3 separate regions of the Homo sapiens genome follow, and regions 1 and 3 are each linked to region 2. The links come from fine-mapping of genetic effects on gene expression. A gene starts in region 2. Each other region holds a variant in brackets. All regions are shown on one strand. Distances are from middle to middle.

Region 1 (11,079 bases), 48 kb after region 2:
GAACCTGGAATTAAAAAGTGCTTGAATCCTGAAGAAAAAACTGGTGCATTCAAGACAGCGTCAACTTCATTCGAAGCCAGTAACCACAAATTCTTAGACAGAATGTCACCATTTGGCTCCTTGGTACCAGTGGAATGCTACAAAGTTAGCCTTGGAAAGACAGATGCGTTCATATGTAAATATAAGAAGTCGCACTCTTCTGGACTGTAGCAGGCTTGCTGCCATCAGCCGGGTTCAGGCCCTTGTAAGTTAGCTGTACAGCAGAAGTTTGCTGTCTCTAGGATTCATATAGCACCCACAGAGCTCCAAGTAACCAAATTCCCCCAAAGACAGGAGGTGTGGCTGATGGGTACACATGCTTGGTAAGAGTTTCTGCTTTATATTCTAAAGTACTTAATGTTTTTGAGAAAAAAGTTATCGAATATTTTTTAGACTTAAGTTTTATCTTCTGTCAGAATGTGAAAAGTTCTGCCCAGTTTCTGAGCAAAAACTTCAATTTCAAAATAAAGGTTTTCAGGGGTTCACTTAAGTGTATCACAATCAACACCAGACGGGATATTTTAACTATCAGATTTTCGGAAATGTAAAAACCTTTATGTGTAACTTCTTTTGATATTAAACTTGATTTTTGAGCCTGTAATTTTCTTCTCCATTGGAATGAAAATAATTTGTATTTGCAATACATTTTATATGTTTATTATGTAAACCAACAGTGAGAATAATAACTGAATTAAGCCAGTATCCTTCAAAACATGATGGAAAATGAAATTTGCTTTTTTTCTAAAAGCATTCATACACTGTCACCTCGCCCTTATTTATATAGAAAGTCAGTTTGTTGCTTATGTTCACTACCTGAGAAAAAGAAACAGTAAGTTTGAGGAGAATATATGCTCTGGTTTAATGTTTTTCAATAGTGTGATACAATTGTTCAACTTATTGGCAGCTTTAGTGGTATTTGAACAACTTTGCTATGTTTGGGTAATTTTCCACCCTGTGAATCAGCTCCCCAAAGCAGAAGTCATAAAATCTGTTTTCCAGCCAGGGTGTGGAAACCTGGGCCCCTGGTATCAGGTCCACCCATGTGCAAGCTATGGCATTTGTGCCCAGTGGCAACACAAAGCGATCTTCACCAGAACATTCCTCTCCTGAGGTTTCAGCACTGCTCTTGGCTACGTAGCCACCGCTAAGCTTCTCTCTCTGGCCTTCCTAGGAAATTCTAAGAGCCACCTACTAATCTTGAATACATTTCATTTTTGCTAAAACTAAGTAAATGTGGTTGTGTTGTTAACAGCTGGGACTCTGATAATGGAGACTGATACTCTGAGGGGTTTCAAGCAAGAGGCCCCCAGTAATGTGAATTCGTTACTCGGTATCTGGCCTACTTGGGTTAAAGGCAGTGAGAATACAGCTAGTGTTATAGAAAGTGTATGGCATGTGATGGTGAAGCAGTTCATAATGCCTGTGCTTACCTGATGCTCTGGGAAACACCAAAAACCTGAGGAATACGAGCCCTATGAGGCGGGCTATCTGCTTTTGGTAGAACTTGACAACTCAAAGAAAAAGCAAGATTTCTGTAGTCCTTATTCCTTGGGTTAAAGCAGGGGTCTCAGCCAGCGGCAATTTTTGGTCCTCAGAAGACATATGGCAATGTCTGCAGACATTTTTGATTACCACAACTTGAAGGAGGAGAGAGATACTCCTGGCATATAGTGGATACTGCGGATAAAGGATGAGAGATTAGGTTAACAAGGTAATGGGTGGCAGGTAGAGGTGGTATATTAGATGAGATGGGGCCTTGAAGACTATTTTAAGGGCTTTAGCTTTTACTCAAAACCACTGAAAGAGTTTTGAATAGGTGATGTCACCTAACATATGTTTTAGGATACTGTAGCTGCTATATTGCAAATTGATTGTAGGAAGAGAAGGGTGAAAGTAAAGAGATCAGCTGGGAGTTTTTTGCAATGATTCAGGCAAAAGAAAATGGTAGCTTGCCCCAGGGTGGTAACAGTCGTGTTGGTAGGAGGCACATGGATTCTGGATGTATTTCGAAAGTAGAACCAGAAGGATGTACTGATGTGTTAGATGTGAGGTATGATAAATGGAGAGGAGACAGGAATGACTGAAGACTTTTAGCCAAGAACTTGGAACAGTAGAGTTTTCATCAACTAAGAGAGGAAAGGCTGCAGAGGCTGCAGGTTTGGTGAGAAATATCAGAAATTCTGTTTTGGACTTGCTAGTCTAGACACTCTAATTTAGACTAGTCTAGACAGTCTAAACTAGCAGATCTTGTTTAGACTTGCTTGCTAGACAGTTTTAGACTTGCTAATTTTGAAATATGCATTAAACAAAGTGGAGATGTTGATTAGGCAATTGAATATGTGAGTCTGCACTTTAAGAAAAAGGTCTGCTCTGGAGATACATTATGGGAATTTTCAGTATTTAGGTGGCATGAAACTGGATGGGATCACCAAAGGATTGGGAATAGGAGAATAAGACCAGGGCTGAGCCCTGAATTCCTCCCATACTGAGAGGTTGGCAGGAGAAGAGGAAACTCCAAAGAAAACTGAGATGGAACAACCAGTGAAATAGAAAGAAAACCTAGTGTGGTTGCCTGGAAGACATGAATAAAGGGTATAGAGGAGGAGTATTTAACCCTATAAATGCTGCTAACTGACCAAGTAAGATAACTGGAAATTGACCATTGGCTTTAGCAGTGAGGGAGTCATTCATGACCTTGACCATGGGGCTTTTGGTGGAATGGAAGGGGAGCAAAACCAGACTGCAGTGAGCTTAAGAAAAAATAGGAAAAGAGCTGGAGATAGTGAGCATAGACAGTTCTTACAACTAGTTTTGCAGAACAGGTGAGCAAAGAAATAGGAGTAGTAGATTGGTAAAGAGTGTGAAAGCAAGAGAAAGATTTGTTGGGAGAAGTAGCAGCTTTTTTTTTATGTTAAAGAGAATTCCAGGAAAGACGAAAAGATGATGAAATAGGAAAAAAGGGCTAAGTGCTAGAGCGACGTCCTTGAATAAGGGGATAAAATGCAGTCCACAATTGGAGGAATTAGCTTTAGACAGGAGCATGATAATTTGTTCACGATTACGGGTAGGAAGACAGCATACAGACATTTCAGCTATAGTATGATAAATATGCTCCTAAAAATTTTTTCATTCTCAAATTTATGCACTAAAAATAACAATTTATGAAAAAGAAACATAAATTCTGGTTGGGGAAAACCATTGCAAACATCCAATTTTGCAACCTGAACACTAACAGAAACACCAATCTTAGTGAAAATATTGGCACAGTTAAGACATTATATTCCTAATAAATATGTAAGTAAATAAGGACTTCACCTTTCCAAGAAAAGGGCAATGTCACCTTGATAGACTAGGCATAAAGAAGGGTAAGGAGATGCTGAGTTACACAACAGGCACTGTCTGCCTGGCCAAGGCAGAACCTGCGGCCAAGATGAACCAGAAAAAGCCTGTGATGATGGACGTCATATAAAGAGCCTTATTCCGCACCTTGTTCGTTCAACTCATTCCATTGGCATCCTTCACGTTCAGCTGCTCCTGTCTGGTGACACAAAGCATTAATATGCTAAAAAGAAAAAATCATGTATGAACCAACCCAATTTCCACATGAGAGTGACGTCATCTCCTTACTTAGCAATATTCGATTTAATGCCTATTACAG[A/G]AATACGTGTTGTAAGAGAACAGATTATAAGTGGGAGCAGATGCTGGAAGGTGGGCGGATGTGGTGGTGGTAGACTGTGGAAATTCTCTTTCAACTACTTCAACTTTCTCAGTGACAAACCATCCGGTAACTTACCCAGTGTCTGAGTCTATAGCTGGAATAGCTACCCTCAGCAATTGCAGAATACCCATAATGGCTTTCTGATCCATGGAGTAAGGGTATAGATTTTTGGAAGGGCTGATGTCACACTCCTTAGGTTCCCCTTCTTACCGAAATAAACAAAGGCAATACCATATATTTGTAGGAGCTGCAGATGTTAGTGCCAACACTAAGAAAGGCACGGATGTTGATGGAACTCTGTGGCATCTGAAGGCAGCCTACATGAGCTTTGGATTTGCTGCTCTGACTCATTTACTGTTAATTGAGGCCTGGGCTAAGAGATGGCTCTCTACTTGCACCAGCCCTACTGTAAGCAGCTCCCTAATGCCCTTAGAGACCCAGGAGATCTGATGGTGCTCAGAGCAACTGGGGCAGACCTGGAGGGTGTGTGAAGCCTGCAGCAAATCCCAGTAGAGGAAGCACAGCTGCAGCATCTTAGCTTTTGGAGCAAAGCCAAGCTCTCCTATGCAAGTTAATTATTCTCCTTTTGGAAATAACTCTTGACTTGCTATTGGGGCTTGCTTCTGAGGGCTTGACCATGGGACACTAGGTGACCATATGACCTAAGCTGCCCATCTTGAAGTAATGACACGCCAAGCCAAAAGTCGCATGGACCCAACCCAGCAGCACATCCTCATCAGATGGGAGCGGTATATATCAGCATTGAGTTCCACATGGCTGACGGCACTCATGAGCTGCAGGGGCAGTCAGTGCTTTTTCCTCTCAGTGTGCTTCCTGCCACACTCACCCCTCCCTCATAGCCATGGTCTCATGAGGAGTCTCCAGTGAGCAGTTCACCAAGGAGAAAAGAAGTCAAATATGGCTTACAGATGACTCTGCAAGTTTTGCTGGCACCTGTGGGAATTTAATTGCAGCCCCACTCAGGGTGAAAGACAGGAAAGAAAGTGGGGAAGTTCTCCTCCCAGGGAGCAGAACTTGGAGTAGTCCACATTATACACTTTTCCTGGAAGGAGAGATGGCCTGAGAGGCAGATCCTCAACATGTCATCCTCATGAGTATCAGTTTAGATGGATGGTCAGGAACATGAAATAAGGTCTCGGGAAGAGGAATGTGGATGGACATGTTATACTAGACCCCAATATAGGTGAATATTTTTGTCCTATTGGAATGGTCTCAAGAGGCCATACTGTGTAGGAGGTTCTAAATATGTAGTTGGAAGATTGCCTGCCCAGTGCCCTACCCTTTCCCCAGCCATCCTGGTGCTTGCTCAGTGGCCCCATAGACAATGGTTGCAGAGACAGACAGAAACAATGCACTGGCCCAACAAGGACTTCTCGCCAAGATGTGGCCACTGCCACTGCTGACTAATTTCCAGCAGCAGTGACCAACCCTGAGAGACTTAATATAACACTACTGCTGTAGCTTGAGTTTGTCCTCCTGGAAGCTCACATTGAAATTTGATTCCCAACGTGATGGTTTGGGGAAGTTGGACCTAGTAGGGGTATTTGGGTCATGTCGGTAGATATCCCTCATGAATGAATCAATGCCCTCTTGAGGGAGCTAGTTCATTCTCACTCTCCCAGGACTAAATTAGTTACCAGTGATTGGCTGTTGTAAAAGAAGTTCTGCTTCCTAGACATTCTCTTGCTCTCTTTGTACCTACCCACTCACTTTTCTGCTTCTCTGCCATATTTTGAGCCAGCCCATGGCCCTCACCAGAAACTGACCAGATGTGGCACTATGCTTTTGAACTTCTCAGCCCGCAGAATCATGGGCTCAATAAACAACTTTTCTTTATCAACTACCCAGTCTCAAGTATTCTATTATAGCAACACTAAATGGACTAAAACAACTACAAACAGGAGGGGAATTATATTGAAGACCCTCCCCCTTGTGAAGAGGGCAATAATTTGTCCTCACTGGAATAACTATTTACTCTGTATTTGGATTCTTTATGCCAACAACACCTTCCATGAACTTAACAAATTGCCTTATTCACTATCATTCATTTCCATGTAACAGTGCTTCTCACTAAAGAGCTTATTTTACAGGGATGACAGTGAGACAAGAGACTGAGGCTCATGGGATTTCTTGTCTCACCATAAGGCCTTACGGCATGATGGAATGGCTTACTGAACACCCAGTTATTGTGCCAGCAGGAAGATAACTCCTTGAGAAGATGAGATGTCTCCATACAGGATACTCTGTGTGCTATGAACCAACAGCCAATAGATGGTGCTATTTCTCCCATAGTCAGAATAAAGAGCCCAAGAGCTGAAAGTGAGAGTGGTACCTGTTACTATATCACTCCTAATTACGCTATTAAAATGTTTGCATCTTATCACTAGAGTGTCTGGGCTCCCTGGCTTAGAGGTCTCAATGCCTCTTGTTCCAGATGGAAACCTTCAGTGCTGTCTGCTATTGCATAAAAAGTCAAGACATATTCCATACCATCCATTGGTCTCTCCATCTCATGGAAAGATCAGTTACGTTAGAACGAACGACCACACCACCACCACCAATACTGCCACCAGCCTGTGGGTCTCCTTTCTTACAGGGCAACCATGAGAAAGGAGCTTTCACTAGGGGAATGCATAAGCTTCTTGGTGCCAGACAGTCTGGATTTGGTCTGTCAGCTCTTTACAGGAATTGTCTAGAAAGCCAGCTGCCCTGCACGTGGGAAACTTGACGGACCTAGTGATCTTGGGGACACATGATATGTTACAGTCTCCCTGCCAGGGAGAGGCAAGGGGAAAACCACCAGTTGTATGGGAATCTGAGCTTGAATGTAGTCAGCCCCTTTTTCTGAGAAAAGAGGTGCCCCCAAATTCCCAGCTGCTCATTGTCCATTTAATCCACTCTGAGCACCCAGGGTCATTCGTGGAAACCCTCCTCCTTTCAAAATCATTCCCAAGAGAGGATTTCTTCTGTCAGCAAACACAACAAGAAACCATTGAATTAAGAGGTAAGACTGCCACCCAATTATTTTGGGTCCTTGATTCCACTGGACAGAAACACATAAACAGGTTGAATTATGTGGGCTGGAGTGTTTGTTCCTAGTAATCAGAGAGAGGTATGTCTAGAACCCAGTGTTAACCTAGGTTCTTACCAAGACCCGAGATGAGACGAAGGTTTTTTTGGAGATAATTTATTTTGGGAGCTGGGGACTGGAAGGAGTAAAAGAGAAATAGGGAAAAAGGTAATCCAAGGATGCACTGTTGAGCTGATCACCACTGTGAGAAGCTGGGATCTGATCCTGTAGGGCCCCTCTGAAGACCTGTATAGGATGCAACCCAGAATTGTCTGCTTAAGGAGCAAAAGAGGAGAATATCCACCAGCTCCTGTCTCCCATTGGTCAAGAGTAGGATGACTTTCAACTCCCTCCCAATTTAAGACTTCCATCGCATAGTTTAAACCCTAACTTACAGAATATCAGATGGAACTAGAGGAGGAATGGAAGCCACCCAGAAATCATGTTCTTGACATGGATGTGTTACCCTTGTCAGAAGGGGAGAGGATGAGCAGGTTTTTCTGTCAAGTATAATTGCATATTTTACATGCGAATATTGGTTGGTTGGAGGAAGTTTAAATATCAAATTAAGAACAGATATTGATGTTGGGCATCCAAAGGGTACATCAAAGTGGTGAATTATCGTATTTTCCAATGTTTGAGTCCCACCTCTCCAAGGCAGAAACCAGAACACCAGCTTTTCCGACCTATATTATAGGTAGAATGGGGGCCAGACACTGACATATGATAATTGGATTCAGATGTGAGCTATGCGGAGGAACCAGGCACCATGGAATCCACTTTCTGGGGGAGAGGCAGCAGAAGCATCTGGCCTCAGGGGCTAGCTGGGGTAGAGGACAGCATTCAGCGTTCAATATCCATGGTGCAAGCTATGGTGTGGATCCCCGGCAGGGGTGGCAGTGAATCTTTGAAACTACCATCTTGTTGTATGGTTTGGATGGTGTTCCTGGTTGTGTAGTCCCCTAGATTAATTTTCTGGCCCTATTGAGCATTCTAATTTTTTTTTAATGAATTCCTTTTCTGCCGAACAACCTAGAGTTATTCTGTTGATTGCAGCTGGGGGCGCTGTGCCACACACCAAGGTTACTGAAGCACTCTCCTGCCCTGCAGGCTCTGCACATCTCATTCTCAGTGGAGTCCCTCCAAATGTTTTGCATTTTTTCTGTTACCATATTTTCTAGTTGTCTATTTTATCAGTATTTGGCACCCCTCTCCAAAATCATTTTTAATGTTTTGGCCTCCCAAAGATTTTGAATAATACAGTCTTTGTCATCATCTGCCTAAGCCTTACATACATCTTTAGGAGAAAAGAAAAAACGTGTAGGGGTGGACTCTGTGACCAAAATGCAACAAACGATGGGTTAAAAAAAAAAAATTCATTTCTTGACTTGAAGTGAGTGACAGTGATGTAGATCGTAAGAGGTAGCAGTACTAATGATCTCGGTGTACTTTGCAGAATTAAATCATGATTTTAGTCTCTGCTAAAATATCTTTAATATTAAATGCATACAACTATAAAGTTTTTGAAAATTTATGAAAATTTGAGGATGTCAAATAAATGGAGTACTATTTTATAGCATTTTTTCCTCCTCCAGAATAGGGTACAGAGTGTGGCCCAGAAAAGAACAATTAATATTTTTTGAACTAAATTGAACTAGCTCCTGGTAGGAGAGAATAAATAAATGCCTGTAGATCTGAGAACAGTGAATCAAAGGGACACTCGGAAACCATTCAAGAAGCAGACAGCTGTCCAGGGAGACACCGACTTCCTGTGTAACCTAGAAAGCTAAGTCTCAGAGAAATGCAAATCAAAACCACAATGAGATACCATCTCACGCCAGTTAGAATGGCAATCATTAAAAAGTCAGGAAACAGATTCTGGAGAGGATGTGGAGAAATAGGAATGCTTTTACACTGTTGGTGGGAGTGTAAATTGGTTCATCCACTGTGGAAGTCAGTGTGGCGATTCCTGGAGGATCTAGAACTAGAATTACCATTTGACCCAGCAATCCCATTACTGGGTACATACCCAAAGGATTATAAATCATGCTACTATAAAGACACATGCACACATATGTTTATTGTGGCATTATTCACAATAGCAAAGACTTGGAACCAACCCAAATGTCCATCAATGATAGACTGGATTAAGAAAATGTGGCACATATACACCATGGAATACTATGCTGCCATAAAAAAGGATGAGTTCATGTCCTTTGCAGGGACATGGATGAAGCTGGAAACCATCATTCTCAGCAAACTGTCACAGGGACAGAAAACCAAACACCTCATGTTCTCAGAGATGAGAAATGAACAGTTAGATCACTTGGACACAGGGTGGGGAACATCACACACCGGGGCCTGTCGAGGGGTGGGGGGCTGGGGGAGGGATAGCATTAGGAGAATTACCTAATGCAAATGATGAGTTGATGGGTGCAGCAAACCAACATGGCACATGTATACCTACGTAACGAACCTGCACATTGTGCACATGTACCCTAGAACTTAAAGTATAATTAAAAAATAAAAAAGCTAAGTCTCAGGGATTCAAAATAAACTGAGGTTTGAGAAGAAATGCTCACTTAGATATTAAGTAAATGTGTCGGTTCAGAGAGCTATGCAAGAAAGCCCTTGGACTAAAATTAGGTGAGATGCAAAGTCTTAGAGAAATCTTGCTAATTAAGAAATCCAGGTGAGTTTTTTTAGTGCATGTTCATATTTTGCCATAGTGTTAGTAGCCTTTTCAAATCTTGTTATTTATTCATTTGTTCATTTGCTTCTTTATTTACTTAGCTACCAGGCAGTTAGTGAGTACTTGCTCCATGTCAGGTTCTGGGAATGCTCCTTGGTAAACTGGCCCTGCCTGAATGGCTGCTGTGACAGCTATCTGAAAGGGATGTGAGCAGGAGCAAGAGGATACCAGCCAGAAGTCCGGGCTTCTGAGATAGAGGAATATCCTTGACCTTTGGAAATGGAGGGATGAAACCACTCTCTGGAACACCTCGGCAGAGAGAAAAATGAGCTGAGTCGAGGAAAACATTTGAGAGAAAAATTATGGATTGTTGGAAATTTAAAGAAACAACTCAAAACGTGCATGAAGAGCTCAGCTTTTTATCTTAAATTCCATGAATTATGTTCAAGAGAGTCAGGAGATTTGAAGTGTAATTTTGCCATCTGAATGCCACAATCATTTAATATTGTCAGTTTTCATTAAGTTTCTTCAGTGAGAAACTGCCTGCTCGAGATGAAACAAATGACAGCAATTACTCCAGGGCCCTTCCTTACCCACCCCCAACCCTTACACATTATTTCTACCATTTTTTGGTCACCCTGCTAGCTGCCTTTTTGTGACTCTTGCCCTTGGTATCCTACACTTTGTGAGATTGACTTCACCTTGGAAGAATGGGCACATTAACCATATATTTTGCCAGATAGACCTAAACGCCCAGTACTGGCCTCTGGGTATTAACATGGAAACCAAGGACAATTCATTCACTGGGCCAAAGGTATTTTGCCTGTTTTTCTGTAAGCCAGATTTTATCACTCTTATGTTTGAAATCCTCCAATGACTTTCCATCTTACTCAGAATGAAACCCGAAGTCTTGGGTTTTATTGGAAAGGTGTTCAAAGGGTGCTGGATAGCCTGGTTTCCCTCTTACTTCATCTCAACACTCTCACTTTCATTCTACCTTTTGCTGACCCTGCCACATGCAAAGCTTGTTCCCATCCCAGGCCTCTGCACCTGCTATCTACCCTTCCTGGACATTCCTCAGGACACCTGCATTGCTCAGGCTCTCTGTGCAAATGTTTTCTTATCAGAGAGGCCAACGCCAGCTTCCCTAAACTGGCCATCCCCTCACCTTTAGCACTCTATTCTCCTAGCCACCTCATTTTTCGTTCATAGCACATATCACCACCACCTACTGCACAAGCCCTGTTTTATTACTGTCTGTCTCTCTGAGACAGACACAAAGGAAAAAAGAACAAATTATCTTTCCCTGAAGGAAGATTTTTTACTTTTTTCCTTTGTCACCTTACAATGGCAGCTTTTTGAAGGCAGCAGCTTTGATTTATTCACTATGTATTCCCTGCACTTAAATCAGTCTCTGGCACATACTAGGTGCTCTATAGAGATGTGACAAATCAAAGAACACATGAATGAGCAAGTGAACACAACTGGTCATTCATTTGACCACATGTGTCTTTGTTCCACAGTATTGAGATGTCCCTA
Region 2 (11,079 bases):
AAAAAGTTAGGTAATAGCAAACCTCTAAGGAAAATAATAATTCATAGTCAATATTATCATGAATGCAACAAGAGAAAAGGAATATTAAAACAATAGTCTGAGGGAGGTGAACATAACTGCAAAAAGAAAATGGCTTTATTTAGTCACTACAGTTGATTCAAGTAAATTGAAGAAAATTGCAGATATAGTCATTCATTCATTCAACATATATATCCAAGAAATAATATCCATACTCTCTTCCAACTGGGGCATCATTAGGTCTATATTTTGAGTTTTATGAGCTCAAAATATATTTAAACAAAATCACATCAAACAGCCTCATGTCTTGAAATATGCATTAAATACATGCCACACTTTTCAGAAAAGACATTGGAAATAGTCAACTATACTTGTATATCAAAGTAATTTCATGCACTATAGATCTGAAGCAAAAATAACATATAAAAAAAGAATTATCTCTCCAGATCAGAGCATAAAGATTGTATCTTTTGAATTTTGATTCTACATTTAAACTAGTGCTATAAACACTAATTAGCAAATACTGTTTTAAAGACAGTATTTACATATACCATGAAATGTTCTGCTGAATTTTCTCCTTTTGATTGTATGTTCAAAGAAGCACCATTCAAGATGATTATTGTGTGTACTTAAGTGGTTTAAAGGATCAGTATGTGACCAATAGTTTTTTCCCAAATGGCTTGCACTTGCAGTCGTAAAAATATGTAGATTCTCTTTTTCACAATCTATACTGACTTGGTTGGAATGTGTCTGTCTGACAGATTCATGTGTCTGTATCTGTGGTTTTACCACAATACCATAACACAATTGAATTCCATAAAATTTATAAAATCCTACTCTTTCCAAGTTACTCTGTGGGGCTACGTGGCAGGAGTTCATCATACCTCCACAGTGCAATGCTCACAAATGAATGGGGGAAGAGACCAAGCTAATACAAATCACAGGGAGAGAAGCAAACCAAGCTAGCTGCTCCTACCTGGGAAGAGTGGATGCCTGTATCAATCAAGATTCCTTGTTGCAAGAAATAGATGCTAACTTTAACTGATTAAGCAAAGTAAAGCGTGCGTGTGTGTGTGTGTGTATGTGTGTGTGTGTGTGTGTGTGTGTGTGTGTGTGTGTGTATGACTCATTTGTTGGGCAGTCTGGAAAACCAATCTGGAAGCTAAGCTTTCAGAAACTGGCCTGACCAGAAAACTAACTGCTGCCACTACTACCACCACCCCCAGCAGTTCCACTTCTGCCTCAGGAACTCAATCCTGTTCATGAAGCTGTTCCTGAAGGTCAGACACCCCAACAATACCCCAGGAAGTAAAATGAATTGTGGAAAGAGCCTTTTCCCCCACATTGCTCATTTCTGAGTCACGTGAGGCTCACTGGTAATGTCTAGATCACATGACTATGCCCTGGTTAGCAAAAAGGCTCCACCTGTGGAGGTGGGTGGGGCCCATCAGAAGGATGATGCCCCAGACTTGGCAGAGATATGGTTTGGATTTGTGTCCCTGCCCAAATCTCATATCGAATTGTAATCCCCAGTGTTGGAGGACGGGCCTGGTGGGAGGTGATTGAATCATGGGGGCGGAGTTCCCCCTTGCTGGTCTCACGACAGTGAGTGAGATGAGATCTGGTTACTTAAAAGTGTGCAGCACCTCCCCATCCTCTCTCTTCCTCCTGCTCCAGCCATCTAAGAGAAGCCTGCTTCCCCTGTCCCCATGAATGTAAGTTTCCTGAGGCCTCCCTAGCCATGCTTCCTGTTGAGCCTGCGGAACAGTGGGCCAATTAAAACTCTTTTCTTTATAGATTACCCAGTCTCAGGCATTTCTTTATAGCAGTACAAGAATGGGCTAATATGGTGCTCAAAGGGAGATAAGAAACCAAAACCATGACAAAGGCTTACTCAGCTTCAGAATAAGCTCATTCATTCAACTTCATTAAGTGGCTACCGTTGCTGGGCCCAGTTGCTTTCATTTTATTCCCATATATGACACTGTATTGTCATCCTTTATATGCCCATCTCAGCAATTCAGCCCTGTCACCATTACCTCCCATTGATTTAAAAGTTTCTCAAAGGCTGGAACATTTAACTGGCACATTTGCCACAAACTCAACAAATATTTATGAATGAATAAATGAATGATAAAGGTATAAAATATTGCATAAAAGGGTACAAGAAAGGCAGGAAAGTACACCAGAGAAGATGTGGCATTCTAGCTTATCCTCAAAGAAAAAGAAAGAAAGGAAGAGAAGAGCGCTCTAGCCAAAGGGAACCATATAAGCAGAGGCCTGGGAGAAGGGAAGTAGTGGGCATTTTGAAGACGTTAGCACTTGAATTGCTTGGCATCTAGCAACGGTTCTTCATCTCATGGAGAGAAGAGGCCAAGGCTTGTCACCAACCCTACTCAACTGTACTGGAATACAGGAGAGTGGGGTGGCAAGCTTGACACTGGTGACTTCTCAGGTAATTCTGAGGAGTATTCCTGGGTAAGAAACATTATTTATAAAGTGTATAGGGAGGAAGAAGAGATAGTGAGGAAGAGAGGAACTAGAAAGGAAAGTTGTGAAGAAGTTTATTTTGGAGGTACTCCTATCCCCTTTGTGCTCTCACTTCTCTACTTCATTGGCCTCACTACATTGCCCTTATTCCTGTATCCTGCTTGCAAAGGCCCCTGCTGATAGGGCAGTTACAGCAATTCTCCTGAGAGGGGCCTCCTTAGTTGCCCTTTCATTTAGTTACTTTTTATTGGCATACATTTGAGAGGCCACCACAGGCAAGCCAGTGTTCTCGCTACAGATGCCCAGATGAAGTCATCCCATCCTCAAGGATTTCACAATCTATAGCACTTGCATTTTAATATATAAGTATATACATCATACACCTTTAAGAACTAAAAGAATTGCCAGTGGCACCAAAATAGGGAGCTATCTCAAAGCAAATATTCTTGTCCTAAATTCTTAAAACACCTCCACTTAAAAGTCTGTCCATTCTAAAATTGTTCCTGCCGACTTCCAATTTCCTACATGTTGAAATATGTAATATTCGAACAGTAAATTGCAGCTGGATATGCTAAATTTGTCTATAGGGATCCATAGTTTTCAGAAGAGACTTTTTTAAAGAAGAAGAGATGATGGAGAAAAGAGTACCTGAGTAATGGGGGAGAGAATTCCAGGCAACTCTCTTACCAGAAAACGAAACTAATTTCTCCCTAAAGAGGCAGAACTCCCCCATTCCATCGCACTGCAAGCATTTTGTGAAGGGCATTGGTACAGCTGACATACTGCAGCACAGTTCAAAAGGAACAAATGCACATGACTCCCACATATGAAACAAGAGTAGCCCCGACCTTGCTGACCAAAGGCTCCTGGAGGGGAAAAGACATCAGAAGAAAGAGGAGAAAGTAAGGGGAAGATCGATTGGCTCTGCAAAACTGCAGCCTCAGCTCAGCTGTGGTTTCACCCAGGCCAGCACACTGCTGGTCGGTGCTGGACTGAATAGGTCATTTCATTTTTTCAGCTGCCTTTGGTTGTACTGACATAACTGGGCCCCTACCCACCGCTCTACCGCATCTCTATCTACTCCACTCATATACTTTATGCTCTAATAACACTTAACCGCTATCGTGGCTTTCCTGTTCCCCACCCCCCACACGCCGTCTCATTTTCATCTGCTGCTTCTCCCTCTTACACATCCTTCATGCTGGACTCAAGAGCGATTTTGTCCAGGAAGCCCTCCCTGCCTCCTTTTTGTCGGTGCTGTCATAGCTTCCCGGGTATGTCCTCAGTGAGTCATTCAACTTCACCATCCTCTAAGCCCTTGAAGTCCAAACCCTTGCTTACCCATCTTTGAATCCTCAAGACAGGGTGGTGACTGGCGGAGAATAGGTGTTCAGTATTTGTTGAACTGAATGGAATGCATCCTATCTGCATACTTAACATCTTGGGCACAGAATGTAGAGAGAACTAAAGAGGGTTCCTGTCCTCCCCAGACAGACTTGACAGTCAGAACCCCAAAGTATAGAGAAGTTAAAATGAACTACGGCAGTAGCCCAGAAAAGGAAAACATGTGTCTGAGGGCAAGAAAAGAATTCATCAAAACGGTAGTGTGTGAGGGCTGGGTGCCTGTAATCCCAGCACTTTGGGAGGCCGAGGCAGGCGGATCGCTTGATCTCAGGAGTTCGAGACCAGCCTGGCCAACATGGTGAAACCCCTTCTCTACAAAAAATACAAAAATTAGCCCGGTGTGGTGGGGCTTGCCTGTGGTCCCAGCTACTGGACAGGCTGAGGTGGGAGGATTACTGGAGCTCAGGAGGTGGAGGCTGCAGTGAGCCAAGATCACGTCACTGCGCTCCAGCCTGGGCGACAGAGGGAGACCCTGTCGCAAAAAATAAAAAATAAAAAGCAGCATCAGAAGAGTCTTAGGACTGAACCTTGGAAAAGCTCATGTTATGTGACTCCATGAAGAATTTTTACTGTACGGCCCAGTAGAGCATGAGCTGGGTGGGGGCGGGGGTGTGTGTGGGAGTGTCGGGGGAGGTGAGGGAGTATCAGTTCTTCACCTTAACATCCCATTCTGAAGCACAGGACAGCCCCTTGTCAGAGACACACATGCATTTATCATTTCTGTATAACTGACTCAATATACAGCTACAGAGCTAATTTCACGCTGTTTATCTTGTAACATGGATTCTGTCTATGCTTCCCAAGTAATATTTTCATTTCCATTTTAAAATTCAGAGTTTAGAAAAATGCCTTCAAATACCGTTAGGAGAACCATTCAAATCAGGTGCCCAAAACTAGATGGCACATTGATTCATCTATGGCTGGATGGTTAACTAAGTAGTGCAAGAAATATGAGCTGTTTCAGAACGCAGACGTTTGTTAGAGAACAGGAACTTCTGCTCTCCGTCCTGGAGATTCCAACGTTTGGCCCGATTCTTTGTGAAAACAGACCAGGGCTCCTTCTATGAGAAGAGTAGAGGAGAGGAATGAAGGACAGGAAGAGGACGGAGTTGGGAGGAATGGAGGAAAAGGCATTATGTTAGATAGGGAGAAATCTAGGCTCCAGCCTCAGCTGTGCTGCTAACTCGCTGTCTCTTGACCTCTCTGGGCATTAATTTCCTCAATCTACAAAATAAGGCAACTGGACTGAATTATCAATTCTAACCCTTCCACCTGTGATTCTAACCCATTCTGGTGCCTAATCAAGGAGGGGACAGATGGTCAACCAGGAAGACCCATAGGGGCCACAGAGGGCTGATGCGACCCTCCCAGGCTCTCCGTCTCTCTCACCCTCTCCTTCCCCCTCCCTCTCCCCCTCCCCCTCTCCCTCTCCCTCTCCCTCTCCCCTTTGGCATCACACGCCCCTGCGCGCCGCCTCCAGGAGCGAGCCGCTCGCGCCCGAGGCCACGTGACCCGAAGGCGCGAGGGCGCGCCTGAGCCGCCATGTCGGAGGCGCGTGGAGAGCCAGGGTCCGGGCCTGAGGCTGGCGCCCGATTCTTCTGCACTGCGGGTCGCGGCCTGGAGCCGTTCGTAATGCGAGAGGTGCGGGCGCGGCTGGCGGCCACGCAGGTGAGTTGGCCTCGCTGCGCGCCTGGGGAGGTGGGCGGCCCTGTCCCTGCCCTGTTGCCCACCCCAGTCGTGGACGCGGGAAAGCGTCGCTGGCGCCCCTCTCTGTTCCACGCGACGGTCGCCGACCCCCGAGGTTGACTGGCAGGCGCTTCCGCTCCGGCCGAGAGAAGCCACCATTCCTTTCTTTCCTTGTATAGCAAATCCAGTTCCTCACTTCTCAGGGCTCAAGTTTTTAAGAGAGGTGTTGAGGCAAGTTATTTCCTGGATTCTTTAAAGTAGTAAGTAGTGCCTGTAATTAGAATCTGGCCTGTCAGAGTTAGAACCCTTCGCTCTTTAAATGCAAACATAATCTCCAAGTTCAGTTACCTGACTTTTTGTTAGTTTCTTGACAGTGATTGTATTTGACTACATAGGATTGTTGTGAGAATTAAATTATATAGCGTATGCAAAGTACACTTTAAACACGCAGTAAATAGCAGCCAGAAAAATAATATACTCTTGCAGGCCTCATAGTTATCTGTTATTGATTTCTGTGAAATGAACAAGGTTTTAAGCATCGGTTTAGGTTTTAGAATGTTGAAAACTGGTTTCTTGAAAGTAGGGGATGAAGGTATAATAGAAAAGGTATCTTGATGGGGTGTATGGGACACTGTGAGTGATGTACTCTTGGAAAAGGAGAGCTTCCTAAATGAAATTAACCCCTCCACCCTGGCAGCTCCTACAGTGTGGGAAGCCCACAAAAGGAGTTTCTGCAGTGAAAGGTTGGAGTCGTGAAGAATTATGTCAGTTTTGTTAGACTACCTGCCACTTGTGTTTTGGGTCACAGAATTTAATAGAGTATTGAATGTAGCTAATCTTAAAAAGCATCAATATATAATAACTACTGACATTTATTGAACATTTAATATGTGTCAGGCACATGTTCTTAGATCTTTACCCTATATTTATTTGCGTACTTTTCACAACAGCCCTATAAGGTAGGTGTTCCACATTTAACAGATGAGAAAAATGAAGCACAGGTAAGTCCGAGAATTTATTCAAGTCATGCAACTAGAAAATCGCAAAGATGGGATTCAAACCCGAGCTGGGAAATCAAGAATGAGTATATAATCATGTTCAAACCAGGCCCACTATATGACCATGACATAGGGGTGCGCTGGCTTGTTTTTTTAAATGCTAACTTAGAGTGCTTGGTATGAAAGAGAGAGAGAGCTTGGCCCAATTAATATGTAGGATTATTAGAAAAAGGAAAGACTCTCTGCTTGTTCTCCATCTTCTCTAAAGACAAATGAAATGGGGAAAACTTTATTACCAGGAAGAAAATTCAATTAAATACAGGGAAAACTTTTTGACAGTGGGAGTAATTAAATGCCAGTAGATTTGGGAATTTCCATATTCTGCTCTTGTATGTTTGAAAGATAGATAGGTCTGGAAATGGGATCTGAACAAATAATCTCTGAAATTCCACCCAAGTTGCTCTGATACAAAGTGAACTCTCAAAGTTAAGGCAATCCTGAAATAACAGTGATGACAACTAACATTTATTAAACACTTAAAATGTTAGACAAGTTATGTGCATGTTATGATTTAATCCTCAAAAGACTCCTATCTGATAGACTTTTACCTCCATATTTTACCAAAAAAAGAGAAAATTGGGACTTGTCTCTGAGTCTCTCTAGCTTTAAAGCCCATGTGCTTTACCACTAGGCTAAATTACCATGGGAATCTTCCCTGGAACATTGGATGTAGTTTATTTCTGTAACACCACGGTAGAGTACGTATGGTCTTTAGAATCAAAAGACCTGTGTGCAGATCTTATATATTCCTTTAGTGGATTTGTAACTTTGGGCAAATTACTCAAATTTCTGAGCCTCAATTTTCTTGGATGTAAAATAGAGATGATAGCTACTTTAAAGGATTACTGCAGTCCCTGAAATAAAGATAGCACAGGTAGCATGCTGCCTAACAAATAGTTGGTGCTCAATTTTAGTTCCCATACAATGAGTTGTACAGGAATACTTAAAACATTCTTTCAATGATAAGAGAGTGTTAGAAACTTTGGATCGCATCAAGGAAATTAACACTCTAAAATGTAAATTTACAAAACAGATTAATTCAAGAATGATTGTTTAAGAAAGTAATCACTTCATTTTAATGTGTTTTTCCAATTTTCATGAACATAAGAATCACTGAGGAAGCTTGTTGAAAATGAGTATTTCTGGGTGCCAGCCCCAAAAGGTTTTCTTTTAGTAGGGTGGCTGATAAGCCCAGGTGCTACCATTTTAACATGAAAACATGCTCCCCTCTCAGAGAACTCCCAACACACAGTTTGCAGTGGAAAATTTCCTGTGTATTCTTTTTAGCTTTTTATCATGGAGAATTTCAAAAATATACAAAAGTAAACAAAATAGTATGCCGAATCCAGCCTGGTATAGTGGCTCATGCCTGTAATCCCAGCACTTTGGGAGGCCAAGCCGGGCAGATTACCTGAGGTCAGGAGTTCGAGACCAGCCTGGACAACATGGTGAAACCCCGTCTCTACTAAAAATACAAAAATCCAGGTGTGGTGGCGTACACCTGTAGTCCCGGCTGTTCGGGAGGCTGAGGCACGAGAATTGCTTGAACCTTGGAGGCGGAGGTTGCAGTGAGCCAAGATCGCGCCACTGCACTCCAGCCTGGGTGACAGAGTGAGACTCCATCTCAAAAAAAAAAAAAAAAATAGTATACTGAGTCTCTATGGTGTAGTTTAACATGTTCCTCTATCCTCTGTATTTCCTGTAAGTTGGAATTCTGTAAGTTTTATCTAGAACTTGGTCAGATTCAGGTTTGATGTTTTTTCTCCCCTCTCGTTGTATGGCAAATTTCTTCATAAGTCCCTGGATGATGTTAAATATTTAATTTACATATCTACAAACACATATCACTTAGACTACTTTGAAGAAAGTAATATATTGAGAAAAATTAAGCTTTACTTCATAATGATGTTTAATGTATTATTAAGTACTGCTATTTATTGTAAGACTAGTAGTAGGATCAGTTATTTTAAGATAAAATTGAATGTTGTAGAGATATCTCTAATGTCAGTTCACCAGAAGAGTCCTGTCAGTTGATTCATTGATCTTTATAAACTCACATATCAAACACTATTAACACAGGTCCTGAATAGGCCACATAAATTTTTGTTTTTTAATGGTGGCATCACAGTCGAGGGTAATAGGGTAGAATTAAGCAGGAAGTCAAGTTATTCCATAGTTATTTTCATTTAATGGAATAATTGCATAAGGTTGCCTTAAAGATTTTCTGCATTCCCTTTAGATTGAATGCCTCTTTTTTTTTTTTTTTTTTTTTTTTTTGACATAGTGTTACTCTGTCGCCCAGGCTGGAGTGCAGTGGCGCAATCTTGGCTCACTGCAACCTCCGCCTCCTGGGTTCAAGCGATTCTCCTGCCTCAGCCTCCCAAGTAGCTGGGATTACAGGTGCCCAGCTAATTTTTGTATCTATAGTACAGACAGGGTTTCTGCTAAACATGTTGGCCAGGCTGGTCTTGAACTCCTGATTTCAAGTGATCCACCCGCCTTGGCCTCTCAAAGTGCTGGGATTACAGGCATGAGCCACCATGCCCAGCTGAATGCCCTTTTTACAAATTAAGTGAAACATATTTTTGAATTCCTTCTTCTAAAATAAACCAAAACAAACTCAAACAACACCTTAACCCATCACGTAGCACTTTCAAATTAATTCTGTAACTAAATGGCATCTGTAGAATTAGGAGACCTTTGGTACCTCCCTATATCATGATGTGTTTTTGCATAGATTTAAACTTTTTAAAAAAATCGTGACAGGATCAGGCTCTGTCACTCAGGCTAGGGAACAGTGGCGTGATCACAGATCACTGCAACCTTGATTTCCCCGGCTCAAGCAATCCTCCCACCTTACCCTTCTGAGTAGCCTCTTGGACTACAGGCATATGCCACTGTGCCCAGCTCATTTACTTTTTGTACCAACAGGGTCTCACCATGTTGTCCAGGCTGATCTCAAACTCCTGGGCTCAAGCAGTCCTCCCGCTTTGGCCTCCCAAAGCACTGGAATTATAGGCATGAGCTACCACATTCAGCCTAGATTTGAACTTTTAATCTTTGTGTTAAATTTGAATCCATGAATTTTAAAAGAAAGGAAAAATGCTGTTTAGATATGCTAGCAGATAATAGAGCTGTTATTAATCAAGGCTGTTACTTCATCTTCGGGAGTGTTATACATAAAACCAGCTGTTTTTAGATACTTGGTTATGATTTCATTCTAGATAGAAAAAAACAGATTGTATATATAAATAAATTTTCAGGTAAGAAACATGAGAATGAAATATTCCAAATGCCTTATTTCTCTGAGTGTTGTATTAAATATGAACAGTTACAAGCAGTAAAGAAAAAGAGAATTAGTAGCTTCAGCAGTTTTTGAAGTCATAAGCACCAAAATTCATTCTCCCTACTATTTTAAGGTATCATACCTATCTTCACAAAGAGTGAACTGTTTAAGTGCATTCACAGATAGGATTATTTGATTCTCACAGTGAGTACTATTTTACAATCTATTAAACTACAGTAAGTCCTCATTTAATGTCATCCGTAGGTTCCTGGAAACTGTGACTTCAAGCAAAAGGATGTATAATTAAATCATTTTTACCATAGGCTAATTGAAATAAACAAGAGTTCCTATAGCATATTTCTGGTCACAAAAATTTCACAAACTTCTAAATAGGTTATTTAGAACACTTCTGATAGTAAACGCTGAAATAACACTTCTAATGTTAAACATTGAAATAAATGTAATCTATACATACATTTAAGAAAGATTGATAAAAACAAGTAAGATAATTATTTATCCAACTGTTCCAGTTAAGTTATTCCAGGGTTTTCACTGGCCAGATCCTATCTTGGCAGCTCAGGGCACAAGGCGGGAACTAGCCCTGCATAGGATGCCATCCCATTGCCTGGCACACTCACACACACCCACATTTACTTGCACTGGGACCACGTAAACATACCAGTTACCTAACAGGCACACTCTGGGATGTCAGAGGAAACTGGGGTACTCAGAGAAAACCTATGCAGACATGGTTCACCCAGACAGTAGCCCTGGCTGGGAATTGGTATTTTTTCTTATCAATATCATAATGAAACCATGTTGAACGAAACAGTGTTATTCAAGGACCTGCTGTACTTCTGATAATATGCTTATTCTACAAGAAATGTAGGCCTTATGATAATTCGTAGAATAATGTTGCTGCTTTTGGTTTTGAGAATGTATAATTCTTAGAATAATGTTGCAGTTTTGGGTTTCAAGAATGTATTTGGCATTTTACTGCACCAATATATACTATTCTTATGATTTGATGCTCTAAATAAACTTTTTGGGTCCTCTTAATTAACTTAATAGTCGTGTTCTTTTTGGAAACCACTTGCCCCAGGGGGAAATATATATATTTTTAAAATATAAATATAT
Region 3 (11,079 bases), 36 kb after region 2:
TTACTTTGGTGGGCCACAACATCATGCTAAAAATTAATATTCTTATTAAAACCTATGGAGCAGAAATGCACTTGAAATTTAATGTTATACCCATATAATTCATAATTACCTCCAAACAGGCTGTAGTGTCCATTGAAACAGACACTTGTCAAAATAATTGAATTTTGTTTTGTTTTTTTTTTTAAGAGAGAGACTTGCTCTGTCACCCAGGCTAGAGTGTAGTGGTCTGATAATAGCTTACTGCAGCCTTGAACGAACTCCTGGGCTCAAGCAGTCCTCCCATCTCAGCTTCCCAAGTAGCTAGGACTGTAGGAGGTACTCACCACCATGCCTGGCTAATTTTCTTTTTTAAAAAAATAGAGATGGGGTCTCACTGTATTGCCCAGGTTGGTCTTAAATGATCCTCCCAGCTCAGCCTCCCGGAGTGCTGGGATTACAGGTGTGAGCCACCCCATACCTGGCCACTTTTTTTGTTTTTTTTTGAGACAGACTCTCACTCTGTCGCCAGGCTGGAGTGCAGTGGCGCAATTTCGGCTCACTGCAACCTCCGCCTCCTGGGTTCAAGCAATTCTCCCGCTTCAGCCTCCTGAGTAGCTGGGACTACAGGCGCATGCTACCACGCCCAGCTAATTTTTGTATGGGGTTTCACCATGTTGGCCAGGATGGTCTCAATCTCTTGACCTCATGATCCACCTGCCTTGGCCTCCCAAAGTGCTGGGATTACAGGCGTGAACCACCGTACCCGGCCTTCTTTTTAAAATATACACAGAACAGATGAACTGCAAACTATTTGTGTTGAAGATGACTGAATGCAAAAAAAATGCTTCTGCATAACAGTACACTTTCTTTGCTTGTCCATCAGTTGGGTTTTAAAGTGTAAGCCTTCAAAGAATTACTCTGTAAATCAGCCAAAGTGTCCTAGGGTGGTGCTATAAACTTTACCAAAAAAAAGTTGCCTAATTTTGATGGCATTTTATTCAGAATATACTGGAAATCTATAATCAAAGGATTCAACAAATGAAGTGCCAAAATACATTAGCTTTTGAATTTTTTGGTGAATTACAGTTGTTAAAGCTGGCAGCAGGAAGACATTGATCATCTTTCCCTAAAAACACGAAGAAATGAACAAATATTGAAAGCTCAACAATGCACAAGACTTAATTATGAAATTCTATAAATATTCTTTGGATATGGTATGGAAAGAATCTCCTGATGACTTTCCTTATTGTAATTGGATAAATTTGTAGTCTAGAATGGAATGGAATGAAATTGTGAAGGCCTTAATTTTGTATCATCTAAATTTGGTAAAACAATTAAAAGAATAATAGAGATAATTTGAGTTTTGTAAACATATTTGTCAAAGGCACTGTCAATGGAGGGACTGTGAACTGGAAGGCTGAAATATTTACCCTTTCCATATGAAAAAATAGAACTGAAAGTATATTTCATTTACTAGAACTTGTTCAGATATTAGCACTGTAGGCAAATTATTTTTTCTCAAAAAAAAGTCTTTTATTAAACTTAAAAATTTCATTTTGCACAGATACGTTTTCAGGGCCACCATAATAAACCAATTTATTGGATAATAAATATTTCAAATATTTCAAAGCATATAATTTTCATATAAAATAAAGAGCATAGTTATTTCTAGCATTCTCTTCTCAGAAATGTTCATTTGGACTATAAACTGTATGGTGACCCAATCCAGATGTCAGACTACATTTTGCGTGTTTAAGACTAATGTTTATGGACTTCTTGATTAAGATGACAGATCAAAATTTCATTGAAAGCTTTACGCCCTCTTGTACTTACTGAAATGAGAAAAAGAATAGTAATCATCAAAGAAAACAAATTCAGCAACCAAACGAGAGAAGGTCATAATCTAATGCAATAAACCTCAAAATATATTTTGGCCACAATAAAATGTTATAGAGCATTTGAAAATAGAATAGTGGTTATTTACAAGGTTCTGAGATGCTATTTACAAAGTTACCAAAGCAAAGTGTAACCCAAAAATATTATGCCTAACCAAAACATCATCTTAAGGACAAACATTTTGAAATATGAAAAAGTTCCGACAACATTTCACACTAAGTCCTTTGGGGAAAAGTATTTAATCCAGGCATTAAGAGATTAATTGGCTGAGAAATGGAGAAAATCAAGGCAAAATGATTAGTGATAAGGATGAAATTAATTTAACTGTAGAACTAAGTTTAAACAATTATGGGAATTACTGTTAGGAGACAGAATATGAATATTATAAACCTGGACAATAAACAGAAAGAACAAGGAACAAAAATAGGAAGAAGGATATGTTCAGTTTTATAAAAGTGCTCAATGAACCTGGTCTTTAGTTTAAATATATGCATGAAAAGACATCTTGAAGGCCCATAAATCCCTTTGGAAGAAAGTATCTTGGGGCCATAGTCCTGAGTTTTAGGAAATTTTTACCCATTTTTCTCCTGGAAGTAGGAAAAATAGGGCAGTTTTTTTCTTCAAAACAACTGGTATTTTAAAACTAAATTTTTTTTTCATGTTCTTGAATCATCCTGCAGAGATGTAAAAAGATGATTTTTACTTGTTTTGAGCTATGTTTCTATTTCAGAATCTTAGCTGATTAGTTACAAGCAAATTTTTTGTTCACAAGCAGTATTTAAAGCATCTAATAATTTAAAAGATTTTACTGTATGTTGAATCGTATCGGTCAGGTGCTCATGGTTCTAGGAGTACCTGCATCTAAACCTACGGAGATGGGGACAACAATCTGTTTTACAAAGACCTTTCAGTTGATTCTAATACGCACTAAGTTGTAGTTTCCAGATGATACTGATGCTACTGCTATGGGGACCACACTTTGAGAACCACTGCTAGAGGAAAGGAGAGCAGGAGAGAGGCCCACCTGGAAGTAGTTGCCCTACCTCAACCTTGGATGCCCAAGAATGAGGGAGAAGGGGATACTACTGTGTTCTGCAAAGCTTTTTTGAAGGATGGCGCACTGGTTTCCACCTGGCTGTCATCTCCCATTTACATCAGAGAGGGACATTATAAATAATGACCACAAAGCAGCTAACGGTTACTGAATGCTCACTTTGTGCCAGGCCGTGTTCTAAATGTCTTCCATATATTAACCTCTTTTATTGACTTCTGAGGTACATAATCTTATTCCATTTTACAGATGAAGAAACTGAAGCAGTAATTTCCCAAAGTCCCACAGTTAGTGAGCAGCAGAGCCAAATGCAAGCTGTCTGACTCCAGAGCTTATGCTCTCAACCACATCAAGAAAAGCTTTGATTATTTTATGCTCTATTGGAAGATGACACTGCTTAGTTCTGGAGATTTTTTTTAAAAATTATTCTCTTCCATCTATATGAAGTTTATGTATTCAACTTCTAAATTTATTTAAAGCACTTTAGCATATTATATAATATAGAGCAGCAAAGTTCCCAATAAAAATGGAGACCCAGAAGAAAAAAATCATTGTTTCTAAACCTGGACATAATGGGCAGCTAACTCATACGTAGGTACTGTGTGTGTAGTGTGAGGCAAAAGAAAGACTTGGGATTAAATTCAAAAGTAAATTACTACATGCTTCCTCATAAATAAAACATTTGAGAACTATGGTTGCCTTCGTTGTCTATTTATTGTCTTTAGTCATTTTGTAAATGGATGTGTACTATATCAACACCCTAAAACCATGAGGTTAAAACATAACTTGGAAAAAAGGAATTCCTGTCTCAGCTTAAAAGAATATTATCCTTCTTTTTTTCGAACAATCTACTCTTCTTCTATTAACCCCACATAAGGGTTAGAACTAGGAGAGATCTAGCAAGTAGTCATTAGACTTTCCGAGATTACAAAGCACTTTTTGTTGCTAAATTTCCTACCAACAGAAACTTTTGATATTTAGTGAAGATTATTTAAATTTCATTACATTTCTGCAAAATTAGGTACTATTCAAAATGAAAATTGGGACATCTGTCTTATGAGTATTTAACTGAATTTAGGAGATGGATGAGAAGTAAAATAAGTAAAAAGTGGAAAGTACATCTAGAAGATGTGGATGTTAGGGTAGAGTGTACTGTGTTACTTTCTGATAACGTAACTTCTGAGAAGAAAACATTAAGATAAAGCAATTTAGAATTAATCAGACACAATAATTTTTAGTGATAATCATTGTGTTGATTATTGATTATGTAGCCTTTTCTCTAGTCTTAGGACTTAATAGATATTCTTAACCTTCCAAATTCTCTTTTAAAAATACAATGATAGCTATGGATCCTCTCCCTCAAAAACAAGTAGATCTAAACGTACAGTTTTAAAATGGGAAATGAAAGTTGTAGAATATAATTTTGTGGAAGATTTTTCTAGGCAATTTAGTGGAGCTAGCAGCTTTCTATACAAGCTATATATTTAGAGAATTGAGTTTTCTGGCTAATGTAAAATTCTGCTTAACTTACATTTTATTGTATCTGAAAAACCAATTTTCAACGAACAGAATACAATAACTATCATTTATCATTAGTGATTGTGAAAGCATTTTGGGATCTTGTAATTACTTTAAAACAATATTAGCAACCCTAAATGTTAATCTGTTACGCAAAAATAATCCTGTGTACTTCAATTTTCTCATTATTTAAGTTGTAAATATTTGACCCTACTGTAATAGGATTCTCTGATTTCTATATTTCAGAATTGCCATTGCCTTCAGAAAGTGTTGATATTATTATTTCTGACATTCCATTTGGGAAAAAGTTTAAGTTAGGAAAAGACATCAAAAGCATTCTACAAGAAATGGAAAGGTAAGTTGTTGAATTTATTTTCATAATTTTTTTAGCTACTGGGCATTTAACCGAAATACATCATAGCTCTTCAGTTAAGGTCTGATTGCTTTTTAGCAATTTCCCAGAGTTTTTGTAGCTTAATTTTCTAAGGTTTTAAGTCAGAAGTTTATAATTGAAATAAATGTTATCCATATCATCTTACACTATAAATTTTATTCAGAAAAATATTAATTTTCTATTATGTACTGAGATTTGAATGTATGAAATAGTGACCTATATTTCAGTCAGTGGTCTGAAGCAAAATTTTACATATTTGCTTCCATCCCTCACAAAAAAAAAAAAAAACCTGCCTTCTCTGTGTTAATCCCCCACACTTAACAGATGAGAATCTGGGGCACAGAAAGATTAACTTTCTTATGATCACTCTGCTACTAAACAACAGAACAGAATTCTGTTAAATAAGGAACCTTCCATAACATAGAATGGGCAACACCTTATTATTTATTGTTGTCTTTGTCCATTTTCTGTTGCTATGAAGGAATACTGGAGGCTAGAGAATTTGTAAAGAAAAGAGGTTTACTTGGCTCATGATTCTGCAGTCTGTAAAAGAAGCACAGTGCCAGCATCTATCTGCTCAGTTTGTGATGAGGGCCCCAGGCTGCTTCTAGTCATGGCAGAAGGCAAGCCCGGTGTGCAGAGATCACATGGCAGGAGAGGAAGCAAGAGGGAGAAGGGGGAGGTGCCAGGCTCTTTTTAACAACCAGCTTTCCCTGGAACTAATAGAGTGAGAACTCAATTATCACCCCTCACAGGGAGGGCATTAATCTATTCATGAGATATCTACCCACATAATCCAAATACTTCCCATTAGGCCCCATCTCCAACACTGGGGATCAAATTTCAACATGAGGTATAGGGGGACAAACATCCAAACTATAGCAGCTCTGAAATGAAAATGTGAAAGTATTCATCTTATGGTTTCTAATGACCTAAGGGAATATAATTCAGTGGAAGCATTCCTTTGAGAGATTGAAACAATGAGTCATGGATATGCATTTTTCTAATGGTTTAAATTGGTGAAGAAGAGAACATAGAATGCATACAGTTATGAATGGACATGAATATAAGAGGTCAGTTGATACTA[A/C]ATTGTCTAGCTGGGAATTTGATAACACACATTTCAAGAGCCTGCTATGTAAATAATGGGTCACCAATTTAAAATATGAGCCATGTGTTTTAGATGGAGAAAAATCAGGGTCAAGTCTAACATTCTATAAGGAAAATTAAATCTTGACACTTAGTCTAAGCTCAACTAAAAGTCATCTCACTGCATTTTGGGAGCTGAGTGTCCCATGCTTCTTTAGGGATTATCTTATTTCTAAGCAACTTTCCCTGCTACCCAGTTGCCTAACTCTTGAAATATTACCTGAGACCTCTCCTTCTGGACAGCACCTATAATTCAGACATTTCATGAGCACCTGTACTCCCTGCTGCCCAATATCACATTCACCTTGAGCAGATTTGGCAACCCTGACTTCATATAAAAATCATTTCAGGAGCTTTTAAAAAATACTGATCCCTGCTATCCACCCCTCCCCACGAAGGCGCTAACTTAATTTATCTGGTGGAGGACTCAAGCATTGGTAGTTCTTAAACACTCCCAAGGTGATGCTGTAGTGCAGCCAGAGTTAATGACTGCAGTCTTTGAACCTAACTAGATAATCTGCATCTATACCTTTAACCAATTCATGGTGAGATACTAATGTGTGAGCAACGATTTACATTTAACCTAGAAGCTTCCAGAGAGATGGTGGCTTACTCTAACTGAAAATCTAATGCTGCATATTATAGCACCTCTACAAGTCAGTGGAGGGCAGTATTATGAGTAGACAGTTCTTTCAGCCTAGTAAATTATACCAGCCTGACTTTCTCTAGGATGGGTTTGGTTTTTATTCCAGGTGATTGATTGAAAATGAGACAGTAATAGATGTGACAGCCCTCACATTGTCACATTGTGATATTTAAATACTTAAGAATCAGGAAAATGCATATTCCTGACTTCCTGCAAAACTAAAGTGCCTCAGTGGGACCAGTTTAAAGTGTATGTATTTGGATATAAGGGACTTTTCCTTCTGTGACCAAGCTTCCTTGCCACCTGTCCCCAACCTTTATGTCTGACTTTTGTTTTTGTTTTTTTTATGGTTTGAAGTTTTATACAGGCAGTGTGGCATAATATAGTGGTGAAGTATAGGCTTTGGAGACAGACTACCTGAGTTCCACTCTTGGCTCTATTACTTAATAGTTCTTCAGTCACAGGCATATTGCTTAACCACTTGCCTATCTTTAATACCCACTTAATGGCATTGTTCTGAGTCAGTGGATTTAAAGCTCTTACAACAGTGCTGGCCACCTAGAACTTACTCAGTATCTGTTATCACTTACCTGATTTTTTAGTGTATACCACTGAAAATCCTTTTGGGAAGTGTGTGAGGATATATTTAAATATATCGGAGTACACATAATTTTTATCCCAATGGTTTACTGATAGTTTAAGGCCCTAGATAGAAAATGGAAGGGATAGGAAATTGTGTTCATGAAAATACAACAAACCTGTTCATAACAGGCAGTGGAAATAGTACTGTATGTACTACAGAGCTGGACTCTTCGAGAAAGGACATGCAATCAGAATTAAAGATTGTCAGATAAATGATTACTCTGGTGGCATGAGCTATGCATTCTCAGCTCAATTATTTCCTCCTTTAATGTATTAAAGGATTATGGGTACAGAGCATTGTCAGGAATTCAGAGAAGTACATTTGAGTTTTCTCCTCAAATGTAACTGTGCAAATACATGAGCAAAATTAAAAATTCACCTTGCACCGCTTGAAGGAAGAAGGCATTGTGTGCCAAAGAGGCTTGAGATGGTTTCAGGAAGAAGCCAGATTTCAGTGAAATTTGGAAGTGAAGACAGAATTGAAAAGGAGACCACATCATGTTTATATGTACAGATGTTTATTAAGTATTTCTTGAGTGAGCAGTACAGCAGGAGGTGTGTTCATGGAACAATGAGTATACCAGACTGCCTGGAGCAAAGGATTTATAGTAGGTGGTTAAGACTTAATGTGTTCCATGGACAAATAATTTAAGATTATTTGTACCATCTACTCCTAGTTTTTCAGGTTCACATACGAAAGGGAAATCTCTTATGCTGTTTGATACAGACTTCCCCCAACTTACTGACTGCAGAGTTTTTTCTTAAGAAATAGTAATATTGTATTCTTATTATTATCATCACTGATACACTAGTGTTCAAAGGAATACAATTTGGTAAACATTGCTTTATAATTCTGAATAGCTTTCATAGTAAGAAATTATGTGTTTCTGGGCACAGTAGCTCATACCTGTAGTCTCAGCAACTCAAGATGCTGGGGTGGAAGGATCACTTGAGGCCAGGAATTCAAGACTAGCCCGGACAACATAGCAAGAACTCATCTCTAAATAAATAAAAAATTTAAAAATTAGCCAGGTGTGGTGGCATGCACCTTCAGTCCCACTACTTGGAAGGCTAAAGTAGGAGGATCGCTTGAGCCCAGGAGTTGGAGGCTGCAGTGGGCTGCGATCAAGCTACCTGGGTGACAGAATGAGACCCCATCTCTAAAAAGAAAAGAAAAGAAATTATGTGTATATGAACTAGGTGACACCAGTAGCTTGAGGTATGATCAAGCTGCCCAGGTGACGGAGTGACCCCATCTCTAAAAAAATAAAAAAAAAGAAAAGAAAAGAAATTATGTGCGTATGATCATGGAAAGATGCCTAGAAGGACATTTATGGAAAATGTTCATCTCAGAGTAGCAGGATTTCAGGTGATTTTCACTTTCTCTCCATTATTTGAACAAAATTACAATAAATGGTGACTGTCCTGTTAGGCATCTTGTCATGTACATATGCACAAAAGGATACATGTTTACTACTCTACATAAATAGGATTGTCCTTAATGTACTGTAGCATTGCTTTTTTTCTACTCAACAATGTCATGAATCTCCTTTCTGATCAGTTGTTACAATATACATTATAATTTTCAGTGGTTGCCACATTATATGTATGTACCATTATGCAACCAGTGCTTATGGATGAATATTTAGATAATCCCCAATTTTTTATTTTAAAAAAGAACTATTCTTTGAACATCCTTGCATGGTTTTTCAAACTTAACTATATGACCAAGCACCACAGTCACAGTATCACAGTTTCTTCATCTGCAAAATGACAGTGTTATAGAGCATACTTAGAAAGATAATTCTGAAGTTTAAATGATACATAATACAGAGCATATCCAACTGCCTGGCACATATTAAGTACTCAATAAATATTAGCTATATCACCATTATTATCACTGTTATTCTACTACTACTACTATTACATCTTCTTAGGATAATTTCCTAGAAGTGAGATTGCTGGGTCAAAGGTTATGTACATTTCATATTTTTGATACATGATTGCTAAACTGTTGCCCCAAAAAGTTACTTCAGTTTCTGTCTTCAAGAGTACTCATTTTCCCATCCACTTCTTCCTTGCTCAGTAGAAGAGGCTTCCCTCTTCCTGCAAGGGTTTATCCTCTCAGTTCCTTCCTCCTCAAGGATCACACTCTGCCCACTTCTCATTTTTATCTTCTGCCTACTCATCTGCCGGTTCTTTCCAGGAGATTCATTTATCCCTTCCCCAGACACGTTTGGAAGTCTTTGCATCTCCCATGCACTTGCATGTACTTGGCCCCGGGGATTACAGCAGTGAATACGACAGGCAAGGTCTCTGACCATTCATTGTGAGAAGACAGATGGTTAATCAGTAAACAAACTGGATAATGTCAGATCATGACTGGTACTGTGATGGACATAAAACAAAATGTTTTGCTTTAGAGTGAGAGAAAAGTAGTGGCTACCCTAGCTAGGTAGTCAGGAAAGGCCTCTCTGGGAAAGTGATATTTGACTGTGGGGCGTGAGTGATAAGAATGAGTGATAAACGCAGGGTGAACAGCAATTCCAAATGTCCTAAGGTGAGAAGCAGCTTGGTGAGTTTGAGCAGCTGAAGGAAGGTCAGTAAGCAAAGAAAGCAGGCAGTGACATCAAAAAGGTAGGTAAGGGTCAGATTGTGTAGGAGCCTTGGATGCCAGAGTAAGGGGGTTAGAATGTATTTGAAGTACAGTGCAAGCAACTGAGGAGTTAGCAAAGAATTTACATTTGTCTTCTGTGTGGAAACGGAAGACAGAGTGGGAGGGGCGACAAGAATGGAAACAAGACCTGTCTACCAGATTGTTGCTGTGGTCCAGGCAAACTATGAATGAAGTAGACAAATATGTGATACAATTTAGAGACAGAATTGTCTAGCTTTGCTGATGGATTAGACTAGGGAAAGCTACCTAAGCTTCTTAGATTTTTGCTGGGCATGAGGCAGATTCCCCTTAACTCTTGGTCCTTTAGCTGCCACTGTTTCTTTTCCTGTACAGCTGAACTTCTTGAAATAATGGCCTACACTTGACACCTCTGCTTCCTCAGTTTCCAGCCCCACTCTACCCTGGCAGACGAGCATCTGCTCCTGCCTTCAGCTAGGATTGCTGTCCCTGGGTTCACTGATTTCTCATAATCCTGATCACCTGTTAGTCCTATAGCATTTGTTATTTTACATATATATATAATTTATATATGTATATATGTGTATATATACATATAATTTATATGTATATAAATTATGTATTTATATGTAAATATATAATATATATTATATATATATTTTTACATATGTATGTGTGTAAAAAATAATTTTATTTTAAAGACAGGGTCTCTCTCTGTTGCCCAGACTAGAGTGCAGTGGTGCAATCTCAGCTCACTGCAACCTCTGCCCCCTGGGCTCAAGCAGTCCTCCCATCCCAGCCTCCCAAGTACCTGGGATTACAGGCACACGCCACCACACCTGGCTGATTTTTGTATTTTTTTGGTAGAGACATGTTTTGCCATGTTGCCCAGGCTGGTCTCAAACTCCTGTGCTCAAGCGATCCTCCCACCTGAGCCTCCCAAAATGTTGGGATTACAGGTGTGAGCCACCATGCCGGCCCTATAGCATTTGACACTGTTGAAACTGTTTCTTTCTTGAAACTGTACTTCTTTGGCTTCCTTGACATAACTGTTGTCCAGATTTTCTCTGAGGATGTCTACTTCATGGGTCTTCTCCTCCGTCACTTTTTAAATGTGAAATCTCTGCTCCCTGTCCCATTTTCTCTTCTCAACCTGTACTGCCACCCCAGGT

Direction of the effects. Positions count from the first base shown, and alleles are read on the strand shown. Sizes are in standard deviations (SD) of each study's normalised expression.
For the expression in unexposed skin of the gene that starts at base 5,436 in region 2, allele A in region 1 goes with a lower level than allele G (small effect, 0.25 SD a copy in GTEx).
For the expression in tibial artery of the gene that starts at base 5,436 in region 2, allele A in region 3 goes with a lower level than allele C (small effect, 0.15 SD a copy in GTEx).

The links. PIP is the estimated chance that this variant, and not a neighbour inherited with it, causes the effect. A credible set is the group of variants that fine-mapping cannot tell apart.
Region 1: its variant is the best candidate, but not a certain one, in a credible set for the expression of THUMPD2 in unexposed skin (GTEx, PIP 0.88).
Region 3: its variant is the best candidate, but not a certain one, in a credible set for the expression of THUMPD2 in tibial artery (GTEx, PIP 0.54).

Annotation. Positions count from the first base shown.
Region 1 is chr2:39,725,866-39,736,944 of GRCh38, reverse strand. THUMPD2 (THUMP domain 2 tRNA and snRNA guanosine methyltransferase) reads left to right here. Exons shown (of 10, transcript NM_025264.5): 10 at 1-884. The coding sequence ends at 210. It also overlaps a transcript of TMEM178A not described here. Among named protein-coding and RNA genes, the nearest start is that of THUMPD2, 48 kb to the left of the region's middle. The variant A/G (reference allele first, on the strand shown) is at 3,698.
Region 2 is chr2:39,773,615-39,784,693 of GRCh38, reverse strand. THUMPD2 (THUMP domain 2 tRNA and snRNA guanosine methyltransferase) reads left to right here and starts at 5,436. Exons shown (of 10, transcript NM_025264.5): 1 at 5,436-5,580. The coding sequence starts at 5,455.
Region 3 is chr2:39,738,090-39,749,168 of GRCh38, reverse strand. THUMPD2 (THUMP domain 2 tRNA and snRNA guanosine methyltransferase) reads left to right here. Exons shown (of 10, transcript NM_025264.5): 9 at 4,691-4,799. It overlaps LOC124905994 (a long non-coding RNA gene), which reads right to left. Exons shown (of 3, transcript XR_007086294.1): 2 at 8,180-8,272. Among named protein-coding and RNA genes, the nearest start is that of THUMPD2, 36 kb to the left of the region's middle. The variant A/C (reference allele first, on the strand shown) is at 5,926.